Regions from separate parts of the Homo sapiens genome. Here all the other regions are linked to region 3. The links come from fine-mapping of genetic effects on gene expression. A gene starts in region 3. Each other region holds a variant in brackets. All regions are shown on one strand. Distances are between the middles of the regions.

Region 1 (6,943 bases), 52 kb before region 3:
CTCAGTCCTGCTGCCCTGGGCCAAGACTCTTCAGAGGGGTGAGGTGGGGAGCGGCTCCCAGAGATGGCAGCTTTTGGAGCCAGGTGGGACGTGGCCCGCACCAGGCTAACCACAAGACTTCCCGTCTGCCTCTCCCACTGGGAGGCAGGCTCATCCTCCAGGGCGGCCTGGGAGGGAGTAATTTTAATTTTAATTGAGGTAAAGTTCACATCACGTAAAATGAACCACTTTAAAGTGTGCCCTGTGCAACCATCGCCACGGTCTAGTTCCAATCCAACCACCACCTCCCGCACTTACGCTCTGGGAGAGCGTGGGGGATGTTTGTGTGTGTACCGTGCAGTGGGTGTGTGACCTCTTGGAGAGCGATGAGCGTGTGGATGAGCAGATGTGGGTGTGCAGGTCGGAGTGGGTGTGCCCTTTACCCACCCATCCCAGGCTTTGCCTCCTCAAGCCCCATGGTAACCCTGGGAAGGAGATTGTACTTGCTCTTCACAGACTCAGAGAGGCTGAGCGGCTTGTCCACGGTCACACAGTGTGGCCAGTGAGTAGCATGGATAAGAAGGATGAGGAGCCAGTTCTCCCGAGCCAGTGCTCTGGGGCCTTTTCTGCCCAGGGCATCCCACCGTGGCTCCCCGGCTCCTGGACCCACCCAGCCCCGACGATGTGACCTGGGGGACCCCAGCCCTCCTGAGATGGCACCCCAGGATGGTGTAGGGGGAAGTGTGTGGAATTGGGTTTGGAGGGCTGTGCGGCATCTGGGGCCTGTGGCTCCCAGGCAGGGCCGCCCCCCACAGCACTGCAGCCTCTCACGCGCACGTGCAGGGCAGACTCTGCCCGGGGGCTGCAGAATCAGGAGTCTTCTCCTAGGTTTGGCCTTGGGCTCCATCCTACACCCTGAATGTGACAGCTGCGTCTTCGTCTCACACCTACTTTTGAATGCCAAGAGGGGGCTCCGCTGGCCAGGACAGAATATTTTTATGGTAAAAAATGACCGGCAGTTGCATCAGCTCCAGGAGGGTGGGAGCCGTCACCCGAGGTCGCACAGGCAGACTGATGAAAATTCTGCTTATAAAGTCACTGCTCCCCCATTAATTAGGGGGGAGGGGGCGCTCCGGAGCCACCACGCACCTCGCCCACGGCCAAAAGCTTGTCAACATTTTCCACGAAGGATGAAAATGTAAATAACTTTCAGATTATTCAATGTCACCAAGGTATGGAAAAAGGTCGCCATACTGGGTGTCATTTATCTCGTTGTGGATTTAAAGAGCTTTTTTCTATTAAATTTCTTAAAATTAATGTTTTATGTTGCTCAGAGTAATTTAAACAATTATGGGCTTAAAGAATTGATCATTACAGCCCCTGGGATTTAGCGCTGCAGGCTGATTCCCCTGAAAAACCTCTGATTTATCAGGGCTGCTACTCGGCCAGGCAAGCCCGGGGATTTGGGCCCCCACCCGCTCCTGTCCACCCTTGGGGAGGGGGGCTGGACCTGCCGGCAGATGGTGAGGAGGGAGAGGAGGGGAGGGCAGGGGGTGTCCCTGCTCTTAGGGAGAGGGAGGGGTGCCTCTGTGACTTCTAAGGCATCCCCTGATTCGGGAAGGTCCTTCGGGCTAAAAGCAGCTCTTCGTATGAATTTCATATTTAAGAGAAAATAATCCCTTTTAATGTGCTGGTTGAAATTACTTTATTATTCAGATATTTAAGTTGGATGATGTAATACAGTTGCCAGATTCAAAGTTAGCAAGCTCCTCCCCCGTCCCGCCAAGGGGACGCCACCCAGAGCCCTGTGCCACCCCCAGCCCCGCCCCCGCTGCAAGGGGGATGGGGTCCTGGGCAAGGGTCGGTCCTCTCTGGTCAGCGACCCCGCTGCCTCTCGGGTCGGGACCCCAACGAGCGGGAAAAAAAAAAAAAGACAGAACGCGTGCCGGGGAGTATGACCCCGGCCCCGGCTCCCTGCACCCCGGGCTGCGCAGAGCCCTCGCCCTCCGGGTTCCCTCTGCCAGCGACGCCAGCAGAGCCGGGCAGGTCCCATCTCGGGGTCTCCCCGCGCCCGGACGACCCCTCTCCCACTGCGGCCCCGGCCCTGCCTCACCCGCCGCCCCACCAGGGTCCGAGACCGGGAGACCCCAGCCGCGGGGGGGGGGGGACATCAGCCTTCGACCTGCCCCCGCACCTCCCGCTCCGCGGGGAGACTGGGCGCCAGGAACCCCGAATTCGGGGCTGACAACCCGCAGGCGCGCGGCTAAAGCTTCCACCGTCCGCGAGAAGGCGTCTCCACCCTGGAAGGAAGGGGGCTCGGACCCAGGGAGGATGAGGGGTCCGCCTTCTCCTTCCCCTCACCTCGCTGCAGCCCAGAGCCCGCAGACAGCCCCGCGGCCCAAGGTCTCTCTCCGCCCGAGGTCTGCAGCTCTGGCTGGGCGTCCCCCGGCCTGGCGGGGGTCCGGGTGGGGGCCGCGGCCCGAAGTCTGATTCTGGGTTCGCCCTCGCGGGTACGGAGCAGGAGCCGGAGGAGGTCGGAGCCCGCGTTTCTGTCCCTGGGGCGCGGGGAGGTCACAGGGCTCCCCCCAGGCCCGCGCGGGGCGGAACCGGGTACGGCCAGAGCGGCGCGCGCTGCGCTCCGATCGGGAACCGGAGGCCGGCGAGGTCACGCAGACGCGCTCTCCAGGGCACCGCGGGTCTCCCATCGCCGAGGCCGCCTCCGCAGGCCCCGCTCCCCTCCCCGCGGCGGCCAGGGCGGTGTCGGGGGCGGCCACGGGCTCCGGGATTATCGACGCGCCGCCAGCTGGAGCGGGCGCGGGCGGGGTCCCCGCGGGAACAGTCGGCACTTTATTAACCTGTCAGCGCCTAAAAGGTCCCGGGCGGCCTGGGGGAGGGGCCGGAGGCCGGGGCGGGGTGGGGGCGCGGCTGGGGGATTTGCGCCCCCTCCTCGGGGCTGCCCCCCGCCAGCCCGCGCTGCACCCCGGCGGCCGCGCCCCCTCCCTAAATTCCGCCTTCGACCTGGGCCCGGAGCCGCTTTCCCCGCGGGCTGCCCGTTGCCCCCGGAGAGTTCGGGGTCGTCCCTCCAGCGCCCGTCCCTGGCCGCGGGGCCGCTGGCTGGAGTCTCTGCCCTGGGGACACCGACTCCGCAGGCCGGCCCCGAACCTCGCACTTTCCCGCCGGCGCGCCTTTGCCCGCACTGGTCGCCGTCGCCACGCGCCATCCTCGCGTCCAACCCCATCTGCTTCCACGCTCGGCTCCAGTGTTGCCGCCATTCCCAGTGGCCGTCGGGGCCCTTCTCCCCTCCCGGGACCGCCCTGGTGATCCGCGCGTCTCTGCGCTTCCCAGGGGTGCTCGGTGCCTCCTTAGACACAGCGTGGCTGCCAGAGCCTGGGGGTCGAAGGCCATGCGCCACAGGGAGGGAGGGAGGGCGGGTGGGGCTTGGGAGGACCCGACAGAAACCCCGTTGACCGCCTGGTCAGCACCCCTCCTTCCCCACAGCGGGGGTTGGGGGGTGGGGGGACCCAGGCCAGGACAGGTCCTTTCCTCCTCTGGGCCTCAGTCTCCCCACAGGCAGAGGCCGCTGGGCGGAGCACAGCCAATTCTAGAAATGTTCATGGAATGAACAGGTCCAGGAGCCTGCCAGAGCCCCTGCCCGGTTTAGCCCTGCAGACCTGGGGTCTGTGGGCGCCTAGAGGTCAGCAGAGGTCAGGGTCAGGGCAGACTGGACATCAGACCTTCTCCCGGTGATGTTCCTCAGAGGTCCTTTGCCCCAGCCCCATCACTCCCAGTCCCCAGGGTTGCCCAAGCCTGCATGGCTGAGGACAGTCTCCCGCTCTTTTCTCCCAAGCTGCCCTCCCCTCTTCCCCCTCTTCCCTCCCCTTCCCCTTCTTCCCTCCTCTCTCCTCCCTCCCCACTCTTCCCTCCCCTCCCCTTCTCCATCTTCCCTCCCCTCTCCTCCCTTCCCTCCCCTTTCCTGGGCCTTAGCTTTCTCTTCTGTGAGATTGAGAGGAGAGGCCGCTGTGGGACTCAGAAGAGGATGTGCCTGACACACATCCCGAAACGATGAAAAGGACGTCCCT[T/C]AAAAGACAACTGTTCCCTTGGCCAGGTGCGGTGGCTCACACCTGTAATCCCAGCACTTTTGGAGGCCAAGGCGGGTGGATCACCTGAGGTCAGGAGTTCGAGGCTAGCCTGGCCAACATGGTGAAACCTTGTCTCTACTAAAAATACAAAACTGGGAATGGTGCTGCGCGCCTGTAATCCCAGCTACTTGGGAGGCTGAGGCAAGAGAATCGCTTGAACCCAGGAGGCGGAGGTTGTGGTGAGCGGAGATCACGCCATTGCACTCCAGCCTGGGCAACAAGAGCAAAACTCCATTTAAAAAAAAACCACACAACTGGTCCCAACCAGTTCCCCCCAAAAGATGGCTGGTCCTGGAGAGACTTGGAAGTCTGCAGCTCAGAGCAGCTTCCCTTGGCCACATTCTGGAGGGGCCTCCGCACCCTTACTGGGGGAACTGAGGCCAGTGCAAAGGTCCCCATGAAAGGCATGGGGACTCCTCCACCTTCCCTCCCCGTCCACTGAGAAATAGGGAGCCCAGGCTCCAAGGGGCCTCCTCCCTCCAGCCCCCACTCTGCTCCAGGGAGACCCCCTCAGAGGAAGAGACCCTCAGGGAGGAGGCCCAGCCCTCCTTCCTGCAGGAGGGAAGGCCGAGGTGGAAGGGCCAACCCTGCCTGCTTCTACCACTGCCCCTATAGGAGCACTTACCTGGGGGTGGGGGTGGGGCGCATACAACTTCTTTCTGCCCTCTGAGGGGACTGTCATCACTGTCTTCTCTTTACGGCGGCGGCGGGGTTGGGGGGGTTGGGGGGTGGGGACGGGGAAGCAGGGCTCAGAGGGTTCCAGCCCCCAGCCCAGGGTCACACAGCAAGTTAGAAGAGCCAGGATTGGAATCCAAGCTGGAGAGACTTCCATGACCATGAGCCTGGTCACCCTACCAGCCTATGTCCTGGGGTTGGTGCCAGCTGCAAGCTGTGAATGGCACACACGGCCCACCTCCCACCCCCATCATGCTCTCTGGACATCCCAACCCCTGCCTCTCCCAGGGACAGGGTGTGGAGACCGCAACCCCTCCCCTCCATCAGGAAGGGATGGGCTGTTCCCCCCACCTCCTTCCAGTGCTCATGAGCATGGCCAAGATCCAGGGATAAAGAGAGCCCAAATTCATACTAGGTGCCAGCCCAAGCAACGAACTAGGGGGACTCAGGGCCCCTCCAGGGCTGCCTCTCAACATTCACAGAATGTTCCCCACACCCAACACTCCCCAACCCCCGCAGCCTCAAAAAAACGCGGGCCTTCCATTGACTGTAACTGACAAATTTATTGAAGTCTTGGAAAGAGCTGATCACCCGAGAATAAATAAAAGACACAGAACATTCACAGAACCAATAGGTAGCTCGAGATTCAGGTTTGCGGGAGTGACTTTGACTTACACACAGGCCAGCCTTTGTGTCTGGGGCACGCACAGCTGCGGGCATCTCCCAGAAACTTCTTCCCAAAGGATCTGATGGAGGAGGCAGGGCAGGCTCAGAGGAGCCCCACCCTTCTCCAGCGGGGAGACTTCCCAATCTGGGGCTGGCAGAGCCGGCTCCGGCAGGGAGGGCAGGCTGTTTGGCAACAGACATCTGTGGGTGCAGCCTGGACACCAAGGGCCTGGGGTGGGGTGAGGAGGAGACCCTGAGGGGCTTAGAGAATTGAGCTTGGAGAGAAGGGGCGCCAGGCATTTTTGCCTCCTCCACAGGATACTCGAGAACAGAATGATCTAGAGACCTGGGGATTGGGGAAAGCTTCTCCCGGGGAAGGTGGGGCTGGAGGCAGAGAGGCCCCCTGTGGTCTGGGGAGAGGAGGGGGCCTCTCCCGGAGGACACAGGTGTGTCCCCGCCTCTGCAGCCTCTTGCCTCGACAGGCAAGGCCAATCTCCGACCTAAAGAGGGAGCCTCGGGGTGACGGCTCCAAGACACATGGAGCCTGGGAAGTGAAAGCACAATTATGATGATTTCTCAGTTTTAGAGATGAAAGCGTTTTTCCAGCCCTCGGGCTATGCTGGGCTGGGCTGGGCCTCAGCAAGGTGACATTTCATGTCTAGAAATAGCAGCAAGTGCTCAGTTAATTGGTCAATAAAGGGGAGAAATTTGCTTACAAAAAAGGCTGGCTTGCTGGGAGGCCACCTGGCGGGCCAGCCCTGTGTCAGAGGAGGGGCCAGGTGGGTCCCTCAGCCCCCAGAGAGGGAGCTGTGCGGTCGGCAGTGGGAGGCTCCGAAGGCACCAGCCCTCCCTTGACGCCCTGGCCCCACTTCCTCGGAAACCCCAGCAGCCCCGAGCCGCCCACCCAGGGGCAGCTCCCTCGTGTGAGGTGCAGGGTGGAGCCGGGCCTGGGTCAGAACTGAGCGTGGTCTACCTCATCCAGCCAGGAGGCGGGGCTGGCAGGGAAGTCGGGGTAACCCCCGCTGCTCCCCGTGGATAGGTCAGAACTGGGTCCGTTCCCTGCCAGCACCCTCATGGGTGGGGGCCCGCCGGGGGCTCCCGAGGGCACAAGGCCCAAGCTGGTGTCTGGGTACACCAGGCTGGAGAGGAGGGGCTGGGGGCCAGGGAGGCTCTGCGGGGCGGCGGGGGATGGGGGGACACCGTAGGGGCTGCCGGGACGCAGCTCTCGGTACTGCTCTGGGCCTGCCAGGCCTCCATGCTCCAGGGAGAAGTTGCCCAGGGCTCCCGAGGGCCGGCCCAAGGCCTGGGTGGGTTCCCCCAAGCTCCCGTAGAGGCCATTGGCCGGGCCCATTTCCGCCAAGGAAGGCTCATCTGCAACAGAAGCAGAGGCTCAGTCAGCGCCTGCCCTCCACCTGCGGCCCCTCAGAGTCCCATCCTGCAGGCGGAGGCACCCCTGGGTCGGAGAAAGAGTGGCTGCCCCACAC
Region 2 (8,025 bases), 28 kb before region 3:
AGCCTCTGCGACGGTCCCCACAGATCACACCACCTATACTCACGCCTCCTGTAATGTCCTCCCCTTGCGAGTGGCCTGGGCCTGGGGACTGACTAGTAAGCAGAATCTGACAGAGGTGATGGAATATCATCCTCGGATAGGCACCCTCTCACTGGCTTGCTGATGAGGCTTGCTGCCATGATGTGAGCCGCCCGATGGAGAGGCCCTGAGCGTGGCCTGCAGTCAACAGCCAGCATGGAGCTCAGGGCCTTAGGCAAGCCACGTGCAAGGAGGCAGGCCCTGCTCTCTGCCCCATGAGGGTGCTGGGAAGCCACTCTCCCCAGGTGGGCCTTGGGTGACCCCCCAGGCCCAGCTGACACTCCGACTGCAGCCTGACCAATCCTGAAGAAGAGGACCCAGATGAGGCCATGCCCGGCCCTCAGAAACCATGAGCTCATAACCGTGCGTGGTTCCCGTGGTTCTGGCTGCTAAATTTTGGGGTGATTTGTTATACAACAGCTGATAATGAGAACACCTCTCCAAACAGATTTCACTTATTCTGTCTTTTTAAAGCAAAAAACAGGGAGTTTACACTGCAGGGAAACTCCCAGCCAGCACTCTTTCTTCTTTATGGTTTATTTCCTGCACGTTAGCCATGCACATCCTTGCGAGTTCTGACAAGGGGAACTCGTGCCCCCGCAGCCACAGCCCTGGGTGAGCTGACCGTGTGAGAGGAGTCTGAAGTGCCATTCCCCTGCCTCAGTGGCCTGGCGACATGCTGCCTCCCATACAGCAGTACATGCCTTTGCACACACCGGCTGGGTTAACTTGTTAGGCAGACCATCGGCCCCTCTGGCCTGTATGGGCACAGCTTACCTGTGCCAACCAGTGCATCTGGGTGGGTCGAGGCTTCAACAGTCAAAGTGTGGAACAGTTTCCAGAGAGAACACGGGTAACCCCTCAACTCAGATCGGCTTCCTTGACATCCAACCCACTTTATGTGATTAGTAAGGAATATTCCAGAAATCTGAAAAACAAACAAACAAAAAAACCCCAAAGAATAAAAGATAATTGTTGAAATTAAAAACAGTCGACAGCTGCCTTCTTGACTGGGGGGGGTGGATAATGGGGGTGTGGTTTACTGAAGCTGTATCAACTGTACACATAAGATCTGTGCCTCCTACCATATGCAAATTTAAATTCAATAAAACAAAAGAGAGGAAATGGTCTCCTTTACTAAAGGAGCTCTCAAGCCAATCTCTGAAGAGACAGTTCTTCTGTATCTTGATAAACCAGTAATATTAAGCATAAAATGTATCCACCTTTTCTTTTAAATTAGAATTAGTTGTAAGGACAGTATTAAGAGAAAAGGCAACTAACAACAGAAAAAAGCTCAACTGTCAAATAATTCTTGGCCAGAACAAACAAGGTGTGTTCACTTTGAAAAAGCAATAGGGTGGCCATCAGAGTGGGTGACTGCTGGACTGGGAGGGCTGAGAGCCCCAGGCAGATTCCGCTGGGTTTGGTTTCGTGTCTCATCAACCTTTTCCTCCCTAAGGACTCCTGAGCCCAGGACGTGCTCTCGAGGGAGATGTCACACGTCGCAGTCACGTGAGAGTGCTCCCATGACCTCGAGCTCGGAGTAGAGTCAAGGTGGAAGACAGACTCAGGCAAGAAGCCCGGCACCGTCTGCTTCTCAGCTGCAGCCAGCAAATGACAAAGCTGGCAAAATCACGGCACGACAAGTGCACCTTACAGGATTCCCAGAAGATCTGCTGTGTGCACTGACCACGCGGGCGTCGGACAAGCAGCACGCTGGGTTTACTGCCCGCGAGTAAACACTCTGGGGGCCACAGAGAAGCTGCTGATCTGGACTAAGGAGGGAATGGCAGGACGGAGTGCCAGGACCTCTTGGGGTGCTGGTCCCCTGAGCAAAGACTGGCACCTGCTGGCACCTGGTCTTGGGGAAAGCTCTGGAAAGGCTGCCACACTTACTGAATACATCAGTTTTCGTCAGATTGGCTTACTAAAAATTTAAAAAGCCCAACTACTACGTTGCTTGAGAAAACCCCATTTTGTCCAAAGGACAGGTGGTCACAGTGCACTTTTGGTGAGCTGTCCTTAAACTGAAGTCCCAGCATGACGCTGCCAAGGCAGACAGGAGGCCATGGCCATGATGCTGTCGTGGAGACAGTAAGTCACTGCTCCCCTTCCTCACAGCGGAGCCCGGGCCCCGAGCAGGGAGATGCACCAGCTAAGGGCAAGGGAAGGAAGGCGAGGGAAGGAGGGTGCAGCGTGGCTGGCGAGGGTTCTGGGGCTCACCCGCATCTTGTTGTTGACCAGGTCAAGCACGGCGTTGTAGGGGATCCTGTCCAGGGGAAGGCTGGCCAGCCACTCCTGCAGCATCTCCAACAGCTTCTTGACTGGCGGCCGTCCAGGGAACAGCTGCATGAGGAAGGAGCCACCTGAGAGCTACAGACCCAAACCCGGGCCCGCCCCCACCGCGGGGGGCACCGCACCTCCAAAGAGAAGCACTCCATCCGCAGAGGGGCTGAACCTAGGATGGGGCCTCTCATAACTCGGGTTTCTCTGATGGGAGGCAGGAAACCCAAGGGGCCATGGGGTGGGCATCTAGCCTGCGCCTCTCCCCAGGACAGCCTGTGCCCACGGCCATGCCTTTCTCCAGCCCGTGCCTGCAGCTCACCCACCTGCGCCCACGGCCTCGCTCCGGCCAGGTGACAGGCAAGGTCACGGTGTGTGACTCATCATGGAGCTGGCGGGGGCTTGCTGATTTATTCTGCCTTCCTCACGAGGAGCTGTGCTGACCCCGCCTGCCCGCCCGCTGGGCTTCCCCTCTGCCGTCACTGACTGTATGAAGGGCGCGCGGCAGTGCACATGCGCCGGCAGCCGGGGCTAACTGCCTATGGGCTTGTGTGGGCCGTGAGGCTGGCCGACATCAACACAGCTTGGGGAGGCGTCTGGCTGAGAAGATCCCAGGGCTCTGTCTTTTTAGGAGAAACTCTGATCAGCTGCTGCACCACAAACTGTGCAAAACATAGGCTGCCGAAAGAGCTCCGAAAACCCGAGCTGAAATCTCACGGGTGGCAATGCCAGACCAGAAACACCAGCCACCAAAAGAGTTCCTCAAACCCGAGCTGAAGCTCACAGGTGGCGATGCCAGACCAGAAACGCCGGCATCTTCAGCTCAGTCCAATATATTTTCTCCCGTGCAGGTTAAAAAGTACCATGATTAATTTACCAGAATCAAATTTATTTTAGACATCCAAGTAAACTTCAGAAAAATATTAAGAATAACTTATTAATACCCTGGCCTCAGGAGTTGCCCAGAGCACAAGTGTAAAAGCTCCAAGCCTAACTAGACTAAGGGGAAGACGGAGAAGC[C/G]GGGAGAGGAGAGCAGGTCTGCCTAGCGACAGCTGTGCGACTCCAGCGAATTAGCTGGCCGGCGGCCACCACCACTAAGAGCCACACTGTCCTCCACTAATATGATGGACAGATTAGCAGGACACTTTCTTAAAGGAAATGAGGCCAGCTAGAGATTTCTGAACTCTGGATGGCACCGTGGGGGAAAAAGCTGCCTGGGCAATGTTCATGCATTCATCTGAGGCACCTCCAGTCCTTCAAGATTTCCTGTACTTTTCACAAATCACTTTGTAAGTAAACTCTATCCAAAGTGCTCACTATAAATTATTCTATCATGCATCTTATTTTTGGCAAGATAAATATTTTAAGCCTAAGCCTTCTTGTCATTTAGACAGTAACAAGCAACCGAGCTCATGGAGTTACACCTGGCCACCTCCCTGGCTGGTCCTCTTCAGCCTGACCCTGGGCACGGCCAGGCCTGAGCTCTGTTGGGTGGCATCTCTGCCCGCTCCTGGCGACCCCCTCAGTGGTCTCAGACACCACATCTGTGCTGGTGATGGTGCTGAGCGTGAAGCTCCCAGGACCCCTCCCTGAACCTGGCTGGTGGGGCAGATGCACACCCCACCTGGATCTGCACAGCCCTTGCCTCTCCCTCTCTCTCTCCCCCCAGCCCCCGTGCAGCGCTCCTCTGAGAGCCAGCTGAGGTGTGTGTGGGCCTCCGCTCCCTCCTCCATCTACTCTCCAGGCAGCCAGAGCTGGGCTTTTCCAGCAGGTGCTCGGCTCACACCCCCGCCCCTCTCTACACCCACCGCCCCAGCCCCAGTGCTGGGAACAGCAGTGGACGCAGGAGGCACTCGGGAAATGGGTGGAATGAGTTGGGGCGTGGGCCTGGGCGACAAAGCAAGGTGGAGAGCACCTCAGCGGAGCTGGCGGAGCCCCCGCAGTGTCCGACGCCCCCCAGGGCCCACTCTGTGCAGAGCCAAATTCCCACATGCAGCCCAGACCAGCACCGTCCCAAACCTTGGCCAAGACAGTCACAAAGTCCTTGAGCGTCTTCAGCTCTGCTCCGGCCAGGGACTTGTGGGCTGCCAGCTCCACCCGCAGGAGGTAGTGTAGCCCTGACTCCAGGTCCACCGTGTACAGCTTCGACCTAGGACGGGATATGGCAGCGTCAGGGAATGCCCAACCTTTCCCTCCACAGCAAGTCTCCCTGTCCTGGCTCCTCCCCACGGACTCCCAGGGCCCCTGGGAGGGCTCCTGAGCGGCCCTCACTGGCTGGGGTGGGTTTCTGAGTAAACCCGCCCTGCAAGCACGCAGCCTTCGGTCTACACGCACTGTCTCCGGGGGCTTCAGTTCAAGAGGAACACTTGCTTGTCAAATTCTCTCCAAACCACGATTTCTGAATTTTCTTCTTTGTGTGGCTTTTCAGGCAAGGGAAGCGATTTTTTCCTCACATCCGGCAATGACTTCAAATAAGACGAAAAGAAGGCCCGCAGAGGCTTCACGCTGTGAGAGAGGGGAGGGCAAAGGTGAGAAGAGCCTCCTTTATAAAATCCTAAAGTAGGAGCCGTGGCATTCAGGACAGCTCTGGGCCACCCCTTTCATCCTTTGGGCATTTATTGGGGCATGGGAGTCAGTGGGAACAGCTGACACCCCGCCTGGGCTCCGGCTGCGCTTCCACCTGGGGGATAAGAGGAGACACACCAAATCCACAGATTTACAACCAGTTCCAGTTGTAATAAGTACTATGACTCATTTATGTTTGTGGGGACCTTAAGGCGTTTTGTAAAGCTGGGTTGAGCATCTGCCAAGATGAGCTTTATTCTGACTGCGATTTCCAACACGCCTAAGAGCCTTCACCGACGCGCCCACAATCTGCCAGCCCTGAGTGAGGCATCTGGAAGTCGGGGCCTGGGGTGGACGTCAGCCCCTCCCTGATGTCAGGCCCCTGAGCTCCCTGCGTGCCCACCCTGTGTGGACAGGGTGGAGCTGAGCCCCCTGTGTGCCCACGCTGTGTGGACAGGGTGGAGCTGCCTTCTGAGGACACCCTCAATGCCATTATTGAGCACTTCAGTGTGACGTGGAGCTTGTTTCCAAAGACAGAATGTAGCAGTGCTATTTGCAAAAACATTAAAATATCTATAAAAATATTAACATTATTTGACACTAAGAAGTTGTCTAGATGATACTTTTAACACTAAACAAACATCTGGGAGTGGTTCAGGCCGCTCTGCCAAGTGCAGTGCTGTGCCCCAGGCCTGGAATGGGCCACCTCGTTGGCAGAGCCAGGCCCCCAAGCACTCAGAGCATCTCCCAACAAGCTCAATGGCCTCTGTGGTTACCCTGAATTCCAGCTTTATCTTTTGTATTTTCACTCATTTATCTATTTTTGAGACAGGATCTTTCTCTGTTGCCCAGGCTGGAGTGCAGTGGTGCAATTTCAGCTCACTGCAGCCTCAACCTCCTGGGCTCAAATGATCCTCCCACCTCAGCCCCTTGAGTAGATGTAGCCACAGACATACTCCACCACGCCCGGCTAATGTTTTATTTGTCATAGGCTGGAGTCTCACTATCAACCTGGGCTGGTCTCAGACTCCTGGGCTCAAGTAATCCTCTCATCTCAGCCTCTGAAAGTGCTGGGATTACAGGTGTGAGCCTGGCCTCTTTTTCAAAAGGAAAGAAAAATACTTAAGAAACTGCGGTGTTCTGGGCTTCTGTAAGGCGCCCTCTATGCCCCAGTCGATCTTTGAGGAGGCTGAACTGGAAGCCCCAAGAGACAGGAAACACGTCCTATCTTCTCACTGCTGTGTCCCTGCACCTCGGAGCCCGGCGTGGTGAGTCACCAAGAGCCGCAGAGTCAACCGTGGCTAAACCAGCACATGCTGGAAGCCTGCAGGTGCTGCAACTTCAGGCCAGGGGAAGGGGCCACCCAGTGTAGGGCAGGCTAGCCTCACGCTGTCCTTCTCCTCACGCTGTCCTTCTCCCCAAGGTGAGGAGGAGCGGGGCCCCTCCAGCCTCAGGACGTTACTTAACTTTCTCAACCATTTTTCATTTTCTTTCTTTTTTTTTTGAGATGGAGTCTGACTCTGTCGCCCAGGCTGGAGTGCGGTGACAGGATCTCAGCTCATTGCAGCCTTGACCTTTGAGGCTCAAGTGATCCTCCCACCTCAGCCTCCTGAGTAGCTGGGACTACAGTGGCACACCACCAGACCTGGCTAGTCTTTTTTTTAGTATAGATGGGGTCTTACTATGTTGCCCAGGCTGGTCTGGAACTCCTAGACTCAAATGATTCACCTGTGCCCAGCCTCATTTTTCTCACTGTTCTTTTTCTAACCTGATTCAAGTTGTTTACTTTTTCATTGGGCTTATCCGAGGGGCACACAGGCACTCCACGCAGAGGCAAAGGGCTTATCCTCATGAGGGGCACACAGGCACTCCACACAGAGGCAAAGGGCTTATCCTCATGAGGGGCACACAGGCACTCCACGCAGGGGCGAAGGGCTTATCCTCATGAGGGGCACACGGGCACCCCACGCAGGGGCAAAGGGCTTATCCTCATGAGGGGCACACAGGCACCCCACGCAGGGGCGAAGGGCTTATCCTCATGAGGGGCACACGGGCACCCCACGCAGAGGCAAAGGGCTTGCCAAGGTTCTGCAGTTCTTAGAGAAAGAGCAGAACGTGAGGGGCAGGGCCTGGTGCCCACCCCTACTTCTCATTCTGCAGAGGTGGGCACGTGGGCTTGTCTGCCAGCCCCAGACACAGACCCAAACTGCATCCCAAGAGTCCACCCAGAGCAGGGTTTTAGGAGCATCGGCTGCTCCCAAAGCCCCGGCCCAGCAGCCCTCATGCATGTGCTGGTTTAGCCACGGTTTCCTCTGCGACTCTTGGTAAGTCACCACGCCAGGCTCCTCCTAGGTGCGGGGACACAGCAGTGAGAAAACAGAAATCCACGAAAACACAGCACAGATCAGCAATACCCACGGGCTGAGAGCCAGGGCCCAAATCTGCCCAGGGAAGCGAGGCGGAGGGGCCAGGGCTCCCCCGATCTCACACCAGACTTGCACTGTCTACTCGGAGCCTCTGTCCGGTAACTCCGAGCGGCACGGAGTTCCCAGACCCCACCCGGGCACTCACACGTTAATCAATCCATGCGACCCATTTGGGTAGATCAGGTAACACGAAGGGACTGAAGAAACACCAAGTTTCTCCAGAAATGCTTTGTCCCCGTCCAGTGCTCGGGTCACCACGATGCTTTCATACGGGATCAGGTCTAAGATCACCTGGGGGATGAGAACACAATGACACTTCCACAGGGGCTGGCAGTTTCTCAGAAAACACGACGTGCAGACACATGGCCTTGCAGGGAACCTTTCACAAAAGGGCATGAAGTCTGTCCCCCTGCAGGCAAGACCCTCACTCAAATCTTCACTCTCATTGCACTTTAAGGCAACTGACGGCACACACGCCATGAGCAGAAACCACGGTCTTATTCGGCAATTTTACAAACTCATCAAAGAAAACACTTATCCGCGAATTTGCACTTGACTTTCTAAAACCAGCGCGCCCCCCACAACACTGATACTGGTCAAGTGAGTCCCTGCACACAGCAGCCACACCCCACGGCCTCGCACTCCCGTCCCGCGTGTGGAAGCTTCGTGGCCG
Region 3 (8,025 bases):
CAAAGTGTAGCCCCAGGCCCTGGTGCCTCATCTTCCATCACAAACCCAGCAACCATCACTGCCAGGCAGATCTTCAGGAACCCAACAAGGTTTTGTTCTGCAAAGTACTTAGAAGTGACAGGCTTAAGCCAAATCTCCACAAACACTAGAATGACACTTGGTCACACCAAACAGTACAACTTTTGTTTCTTAAGCCACCTTCTTATAAGAAAAAACATTTATTTTCCCAGCCTTGAAAAAGCCAGTCAAGAGCTAAAGTTCAATCCAAATTTCTGAGGAAAACAAAGGTGCCCTGGCCTGTCCTGCTCCTTCCAGCTGGAGGCTCCTGGGAAGCAGAGCCCACACCTAACCATCCTCTCCAGCAGCCACAGGCATGAAGAACGCAGGGCGTGGCGGGCGCTGGCCAGGGGGACCAGTGGGAGAAGGCGGCTGGACACTCTAGGTAGAAGTGGGGGCCCAAGCCATGGCCTGTGTGCCCCCAGGGGATCAGCAGGATGACCTAAGTCACAGGTGATTGATCAGGGCCACAGGTGACTGATCTGAGTCAGGTCAACAGGGACATAAGAAAACATGAGAATGTTGACAACGGGAATGCCTGCATGCAGCCAGACCCCTGCACTGCCACGGGCAATGGGCGCCCTATCCCTGTGGGACAGCTCCACGCAGGGATGACAGACAGGGAGCCAGGCGCCAAGCAGACAGTTCTGAGCTGGCAGGTCTGGGCTGGGGCTGTGGAGAAGCAGGCATTTCTAACAAGGCCCTAAGTGGCCCTACTTTGAGAGTCCCAGCCTTAGAACAGCTCCGGGGACTCCTCAGTGCCAAGGGCCTTTCATCCCTTTCTACCCGGACTCTACCTCCCACAAGCCTCATGGGCACAGCTTGGCTCTCAGGACTGTAAACCAAAAATAAAATCCTGAGTCCCCTAACTGACTGAATTGAACCCCCTCTTGGCCAAGGAGACCCCAGGGCAACCTGAGGAAAGAAATTCCAGGCCCTGACGGCAAGGGAGGTCAGACACGCCTGGTTACATCACCTCCCTTTGGAGTTTAGGCAGAGCTGACCAGCGTGATGAAACAGAGATCACAGACAGACAGCACAGCCTCAGCAGCAACGACACCAAACTCCAGCCTGACTCGGGTACAGCACCACATGACAAATAGCACACCCTGCAGGAAATCAAAATATTTCACCCCCAAATACATTTATTTCCCTGACATATTTGAAATGGTCCTGCAAAGCTGTCTTTTGTGAGGGAAATTTGCATCTGTAGAGAATCTCCCTCCCTTTCTAGGTCTTTCCTGGATCTAGGAGACATTTAACGAGTCTGACAGCATTCAGGTCTGAAAAGAGACATTTACCCTCTATTCTCCCCAAGGCTGCTGCCTGTGAGGCTTCATCTACTTAACCTTGGCCTCCACAGCCCCTTTAGCTTAACTCAAGCATTTCTCTTTGCTGACTTCAAGTCTTTAGACAAAGCTTAACTCTTTCAATCAATTGCCAGTCAGAATCCACCTATGATCTGTAAACCTACCCCTTCCTATACCTTACATGTACTGATTTATGTCTCTCTGCCTATAACTTCTGTCTCCCTAAAATGTATAAAATCAAATTAACGTGACTGCCTAGAGCACACTTTCTTAGGACCTCTTGACACTGTTCCCCTGGCCATGGCCACTACACTTATTGGCTCAGAACAAACCTCTTTCAGTATTTTATAGTTTGGCTTTTTAGCCAACAGGACCCTCTGCCTGGGCTCCCTGAAGCCCTCTCCCTGCTGCCTGGTCAGGTCACCGCTGTCTTTCACTTTCAGCCATATCCTCCTCCAGTCTCAGTCTCAGGCACAAGCCTGTTCTTCCTGTCGTGACTGGGAAGACAGTCAGCCTCACTAAAGGAGGCTTACTGAGTTGAGTTCATCACACCACTGGGTATGGACGTTACTGTGTGGCTCTCAGGAGGGGCCTTCCTTCTGAGCTCCAGGGACAGTTCTCAAGGCTGCCTATGTGCTGCTTCGGTTACAGAATTTGCAATATTTGAATCTGGTACGATCTTTAGACTTCAGCGACTCAACTGAAAAAAAAAAATCAAAACCAAAACCCACAAAAAAAGTGACCAAGTCCTGCCAGGGCCACCTGCATTTTAATGAACATATCTGTTTCTGCCACTGAATAACACACAAGAACTGAAGGGTTCCCTACGTGATTGAATTACTTGTTTGTTTTCCTAAAAGCAGTGTCTAAAAACCCCACTGAACAGTTTTTCTGTCCATCTCTTCCAGTCTCTGACCTCAGTTCTGAGTCAGGTCAACAGGGACATAAGAAAACATGAGATCAAAGAGGAGGAATCCATTAGAATCAAAAGGCCCCAGCTCTCTAAGAGGAGAATGCATTTTAAAGATAACCATTTACAGTAACATACAAAAGCCCTACTTAGACTTGAAAAAAAGTTTCTTTACAAATCTGTTTGCGATGAGAAAAATACAGCAGGATTGGGTGTAAGGCATAAAAACAAAGGTGCAGGAAGAAAGAGTAGCAATTTGTTACAGATCTTGCCCACTGAAACATGTAATTTGAGGTTAGCACAACACAGGAAGTCCTGCCAAACCTCACTGGGTCGGGAGGACCTCCTACTTCAGTGATTTAAATACCATTTTAAGGGAAGGGTGTTGTGAATGCCCCCTCCCACGCCAACTCTAACCTGTAGAGCAGGCGAGTAACTTCGTGACTGGTTAACAACGTGCGACCAGATGAAAGCACTAAACAATAAAGTGCGGAACACTACCAGCAGTTTGGTGAAAGATTTCTCAAAGGCTGTGCATCTGTGATCAAGGAGCCCACCAATGAAATTCTTTGTAGAGTTAAAAAAATTGCTTTATAGGTTGTTTTGGGGTATTATAGAGAAGTCTCCAGAGTATTTGGACTTCTAAGTTGTGGGTTCACTTTGAGCACCCACTATATGGCCAGCGATCCGAACCAGAAAGTTAATGATGAAGGTTCAAAGGGAATGGGGTGGCTACGAGTGTGGAATAGGAATGAGGGATCCTCAGAGAACAGGAATTCTGGGCACTGGGGATGGGGTGTGTGGACGCTAGGAAACAGGTAGGGTAGGAGGCCTGGAAGGTCAATGAAGTTCTTGGGGCTCAAAACATAGGTATTTTGAGAGCTGGGATACGGGAGGGCTTCCCTATCCCCAAGCGTGCGGTGAGGGCTGCGGGAGAATGGTTTCATTTTGACTTCAGACAGCCCAACTCGTCAGGATCTAACGGGGATTAACTGGGAGAGACATGGGGAGCAGCTGGCTTAGTCTCCCGCCCCTGGAAAGGCCAGGGTTGGTCCGAGTCGGGTGCCTCTGTGGGGCAGGGACTGGCTCTGCGGTAAGGAAAGAAATACGGGGGAGGGGCCCCGGGACCCGCCTTCTGGGGCGGTCGCAAGGGGTCCCGGAAGGCCGCGGTCCCGGGGGTCGGGGGGTCCCCGCGCGGGGGCGCGCCTCACCTCGCACATCCCCAGCCAGGGCCCGCCAAGTGGGCGCGTAGCCGATGCAGTGGCCACACCACGACGAGTAGAACTGCACGAGCCACGCGGCCGAGCTGTTGGCGGTGGCCCCGCGCACGCTGCCGCTGTCCAGCACCCACACGGCGTCCTCGCCCGCGCGGTACAGCCGCGCCGCACCGCCCGCGCCCGGCCCCACCGCCGCCGCCGCTAGCAGCACTAGCAGCCGCGGCAGCCGTGCGGCCCGCGGCGGGGGCGAGCGCCGGGCTCTCAGCGCAGGTCCCGCTCCGATTCCCGGGCTGCGCGCCACCGCCGCCCCGGCCGCCGCCATGTTGGAAGTGCCGCCGGCGCGCTGAACTTTCACCCTGGCAACCACCGTCACGTGCGCCGGCGCGCCCGGCCCCGCCCCCGCGCGCCCAGTTCTGTTCCGCCCCGCCCCCTCACGTCTGACCCCGCCCTCTCTCCCCGCCCCCGCCCCCGCCCATGCGTGGCAGCCCCGCCCCCAAGAGTCTGATGACGCCATCTCCCCGCCCAGGCGCGGCAGGCTCCGCCCAGGCCCCGCCCCACCCCGCCGCGCGTTCCCCAAACCCCTTCCCTGAACAGGGCCAGGTGGCCACATTTAGCAAATGGAAGTGCACGACGCCAGGTTCAACGTGAATTTCAGACAAACAGTGAGTCGGTTTTTCAGCCTAGGTCTGTGCCATGCCTGAAATACAAATTTAACAAGACATTCTTAGACGTAAAAAACTATTCCGGGGTTCTTTTACTTGGCAACCCCACCTGGGGCTTCAGAGGGTCTGCAAGCCAGCCTCGACTTTTTAATATGATATTGGAACGCTTAGAAAATGCAGCAAAACATCCACTCAAAGTCAGATGTGTTGTGTGCTACCTTTTAGGATGTTCCAGTCGAATGCAGCTTCACGGTTTGGAAATGAAATCATATGACTTTTTTGCTTCATTGAACAGGATACCTGATTTTTTTTTTTGTTCCTATTCCTAATTTTTACACATGTCAAGATTTTCTCTGAACTGTGTGACCAAAACAAAACAAGGGAGTGGGCGAGCCTGGGCAACATAGCGAGAGCCCATCTCTTAAAAAAAAGAAAAAAGCCGGGCATGGTGGTGCACACCTGTAGTCCCAGCTACTTGAGGGGCTAAGGTGGAGGATGGCTTGAGCCTGGGAGCTTGAGGCTGCAGTGAGCCGTGACTCTGCCACTGCACTCCAGCCTGGATGACAGAGCGAGACCTTGTCTCAAAATAAATAGATAACTGTATTGTGGGGTTCTGTGTAAGATTTTGTTTAAAAGGTTTTGCTGCTAACAATGGTTAACCCCAGATGAGAGGATTCTCCCCAGAGGGCCCCTGGCCAAGGCGTCTGCTCCCTTTTCCTCACGTCCTGCGTCTCCCTGTTCATGTTTCCTTCCATCACCCACGTTTCCTGGCTTCTGCTCTGTGCCAAGCCCTGGAGACAAATCAAGAACAAAACCGAGCCCCCAGTGTCCCTGGCCTGCATTTGGGCAGACCCCAAACAAACCAACGCGTAAAGCAGCCACCGCGTGCTATGAAAAGCAATGAAGCCGGACACGGAAGCAGGTGCCAGCAGGGCTGCCGTACAGAGGAGGGTGGGGAGGTCTTTGAGAAGGTGACCCGAATGGAGAAGGAGGTGAGGGAGGAGGCACACATGCAAAGGCCCTGGGGCAGAAGGGTGCTGAGCACGCTGGAGGAACAGCAAGGAGCCGGACCTGGTGGGAGCGGAGCAAGCTGGGGGAAGCGTGGGAGGGAAGAAAAGCTGAGAGCCCGAGCGAGACCCAGGGGGCCTCACAACCTGGGCCGCAGACTCAGACTTTGATGCTGAATGGGGGGGTGGCCACGGAAGGATCGGTGCAAGGATGCAGCTCTGCCCTTCTAGTTGCAGAGTAGGAGGGGCAGGAGGGGAAGCAGGGGACCTGGGAGGGGCCGCCGCCTCCTTCCACAAGCTGGAGGGACTCCGGGGAGGGGTGAGAGGCAGTGCTGGTGGAGGGGTCGGCTGAGTCTGGGTGGAGGCAGAGGGTGTCACATTCGCAGAGTTTGGGCCAAAGCAACCAGAGGAATGGGGTTGCTTACGGCTGAGACTAAATCCTGCAGCGGCGAGATGGGAGAGCTATGCTGGGGAGGATGCCATGAGTTTGCTTTGGACCTGTTACATCTGAGCAGCCTTTTCAACCTCTAAGGGAGGTGTCAGGTCAGGGTTTAGAAGTGGGAGTCGAGTCTGGAGCTCAGCGCTTGAGGCTGCTTGAGGTCCCCCGGGGAGGCTGTGGGACAGAGGGGAGGGCCACACACTGAGCCCCAGGCCTCCAGAAGGAGCAGCAGCGAGGTGGCAGGGGAACAAGGAGTGGAGGAAAGGAGGCTGATCTGGCTGAGACAGAGGACGTCATGAGCCCAACTGGAGGGGCACATTCGGAACATCGGGGCAACACCTCACCCCAAACCTGCTCGGTGAAACGGAGCCACCCCTGGGACCAAGCTTAGCCCAGCACTTAGAGGCCACACCCCAAAACAACCAGAGTTTCTCCCATCTAAGGCAGGGCGGGGGAGGGGAAGGGGTTAGGATTGAATCTCGGAGTCTACGTAAGAGCTGTCTGTGCTGAGCCAGATCCTGCCCAAAGCCTGCGTGAAATCTGCCCCCCACCCCACCTGCAGGAGAGGCATCGCACGTCGCTGTGGCAAAGGCCAGGTGACTGCAGGCGCGGTTAGCGTGCGTGCCGCGGAGCGAGAAAACACGCGGCCAGTGGCCATTTTCAGATGCCCTGACAGAGACAGCTCTGGCTTCAAAGAGATCAAAATGCGGGGAGATCACATCTCAGACATGATGAGATAAGGCACTGTGCAGGCTGAGGCAGCAGCATCTTGGACCTAATCTGCTGTGTTGGATCCTGATGAGCCTGATTCCGGGAAGGCCTCCAAGATTTCCAGTTGATCTGTTGTTCCCTGTGTAGAGCAGGTACTTGCCGTAAATCCCACCCTTAGGGCACAAAGCCTTGATGCTGTCTGCTTCAGGTTTCTGCACGTTCCTTCTAAACCAGCCTCCCCTATGGCAGATAAGCCCTGGGCCTGGGGGTGGTGGCGGGATCCCGTCTGTCGGTGCCTCCAGAGACACAGATGTGGCTTCCATTTGTAAGTCCCTACTAAATGTTTCTTCCTGAGAAACTGGACTTGTCAGCCTCTTTCTTCTGCCTCTCAGCCTCCTCCATCTTTGGGGCAGGTTTGCAGAGGCCTACCCATCGTGGAACAGGTATTGATATTCCTGTTTTACAGAGGGAGAAACTGAGGCTCAGAGGGCTGACTACTGTGTGAGGTGAAGGGCACATGGCATGTATGTGACAGAGAGGAGGGCCTCAGGCCCACGTGCCTCCCAGAACCCAGGAGGGCCCACTCTGATGCTTGCATTGGAGACAAAGACAGAACCCAGCTCTGAGCCGCCTCCCTTTCCACATGGGGAGAGCAGAGATGAGGCCCAATGGATTTCAATGGCCCCGGCTCCAGGACTTGCCCTGCTGTCCACGTCTCCCCCTTTAGCAGGAGTTTGGCATGGAGGGCTCAGCTGCTTAACGACCACCACCCATTTTGGGAAAACTTCTGAGGAAAAATTCTGCACACCTGTGCCAGCCCCTGAGCACTGGCGACGTGCCCGGGACAGTGCCTGAGGGAACAATTCTTCATGTCCTCACTAGGACACCATGAGGAGGTGGGTGGCCACCCTCCAGGGACTGTGGACATGGAGGCACGTCTGGGGGCAGGGGCTCCTGCCAGACCCCTAGGGAGAGGTGGAGCAGGGCCCAGGCAGCCTCAGAGCCCGAGCTGGCTCCCAGCACCAGTGTGGTTGGTGCTGTATCGGCTACAGCCTGATGGACATGGTGAGTGGCGGGCAGGAGAAGGGCGGCTGGGAGCCCCGGGGCAGGGCCAGGGCCAGGGGGTGTGTGTGATCCCATCCTCCGCTCCCAGCTCTGATGCTGCCATGCGGGGACAGGGCACCATGGGATGGCTGTGGGACCTGCCAACACTCTTCCAGGACCCCAAAGCTGCCTGGGGAGCTGGGAAAAGGACGGCTTGTGAGCCTGGCTTTGCTGGGCATGAACGGGCCAAGCTCGACCCTGGGGACAGAGAAAATGACCCGCAGGGACCCTGCTCCGCCTGGGCAGTGAGTGAGCTCTCCCAGCGCCCTGGGTGCCTGGAGGCTTTGCTTCCCAGGAAAGTGTGCGGCCGCCACCTTTCATAAAGGGCCCCCGGCCTTCATGCGTGTTTTATGAGGGTGGCCGTGATGGCCACGCAGGGCAGGGAATCAAAGGGACTCGTAAAGTTTGTCTGATGATTTGGGACTCGGAGCACTGCGGACACGTTCATGGGCATTTTATGCAGGAGGGAACCGTTAAGCAGGGAAGCTGAAAGAGACAGATCACGGGAAAATTAAATGTAGGGTTTAACTGAGAAATAATCATTTTCTATGAAAGATAATGACTTCTCTGGAGGCTGGTATCAAGATTTATTGGCCCAAGCGGTGACG

Direction of the effects. Alleles are on the strand shown, and positions count from the first base shown. SD is a standard deviation of normalised expression in the study named. Not every link is listed here.
For the expression in naive CD8 T cells of the gene that starts at base 3,825 in region 3, C is the low allele of the variant in region 2 and G is the other (moderate effect, 0.70 SD a copy in Schmiedel 2018).

Evidence for each region. PIP is the estimated chance that this variant, and not a neighbour inherited with it, causes the effect. A credible set is the group of variants that fine-mapping cannot tell apart.
Region 1: its variant is the best candidate, but not a certain one, in a credible set for the expression of QSOX2 in whole blood (INTERVAL, PIP 0.66).
Region 2: its variant is the best candidate, but not a certain one, in a credible set for the expression of QSOX2 in naive CD8 T cells (Schmiedel 2018, PIP 0.60).

The regions. Positions count from the first base shown.
Region 1 is chr9:136,190,914-136,197,856 of GRCh38, forward strand. It overlaps LHX3 (LIM homeobox 3), which reads right to left. Exons shown (of 6, transcript NM_178138.6): 6 at 5,337-6,830. The coding sequence ends at 6,412. Among named protein-coding and RNA genes, the nearest start is that of LHX3, 11 kb to the right of the region's middle. RefSeq lists enhancers at 1-356, 357-1,302, 6,782-6,943. The variant T/C (reference allele first, on the strand shown) is at 4,059.
Region 2 is chr9:136,214,299-136,222,323 of GRCh38, forward strand. It overlaps QSOX2 (quiescin sulfhydryl oxidase 2), which reads right to left. Exons shown (of 12, transcript NM_181701.4): 6 at 7,498-7,643; 7 at 4,732-4,866; 8 at 4,381-4,510; 9 at 2,302-2,424; 10 at 856-1,006. Among named protein-coding and RNA genes, the nearest start is that of LHX3, 13 kb to the left of the region's middle. RefSeq lists an enhancer at 1,709-2,212. The variant C/G (reference allele first, on the strand shown) is at 3,382.
Region 3 is chr9:136,241,988-136,250,012 of GRCh38, forward strand. It overlaps QSOX2 (quiescin sulfhydryl oxidase 2), which reads right to left and starts at 3,825. Exons shown (of 12, transcript NM_181701.4): 1 at 3,489-3,825. The coding sequence starts at 3,816. CCDC187 (coiled-coil domain containing 187) reads right to left here. Exons shown (of 26, transcript NM_001378188.1): 26 at 7,986-8,025. RefSeq lists silencers at 3,353-3,762, 3,793-4,062 and an enhancer at 5,860-6,714.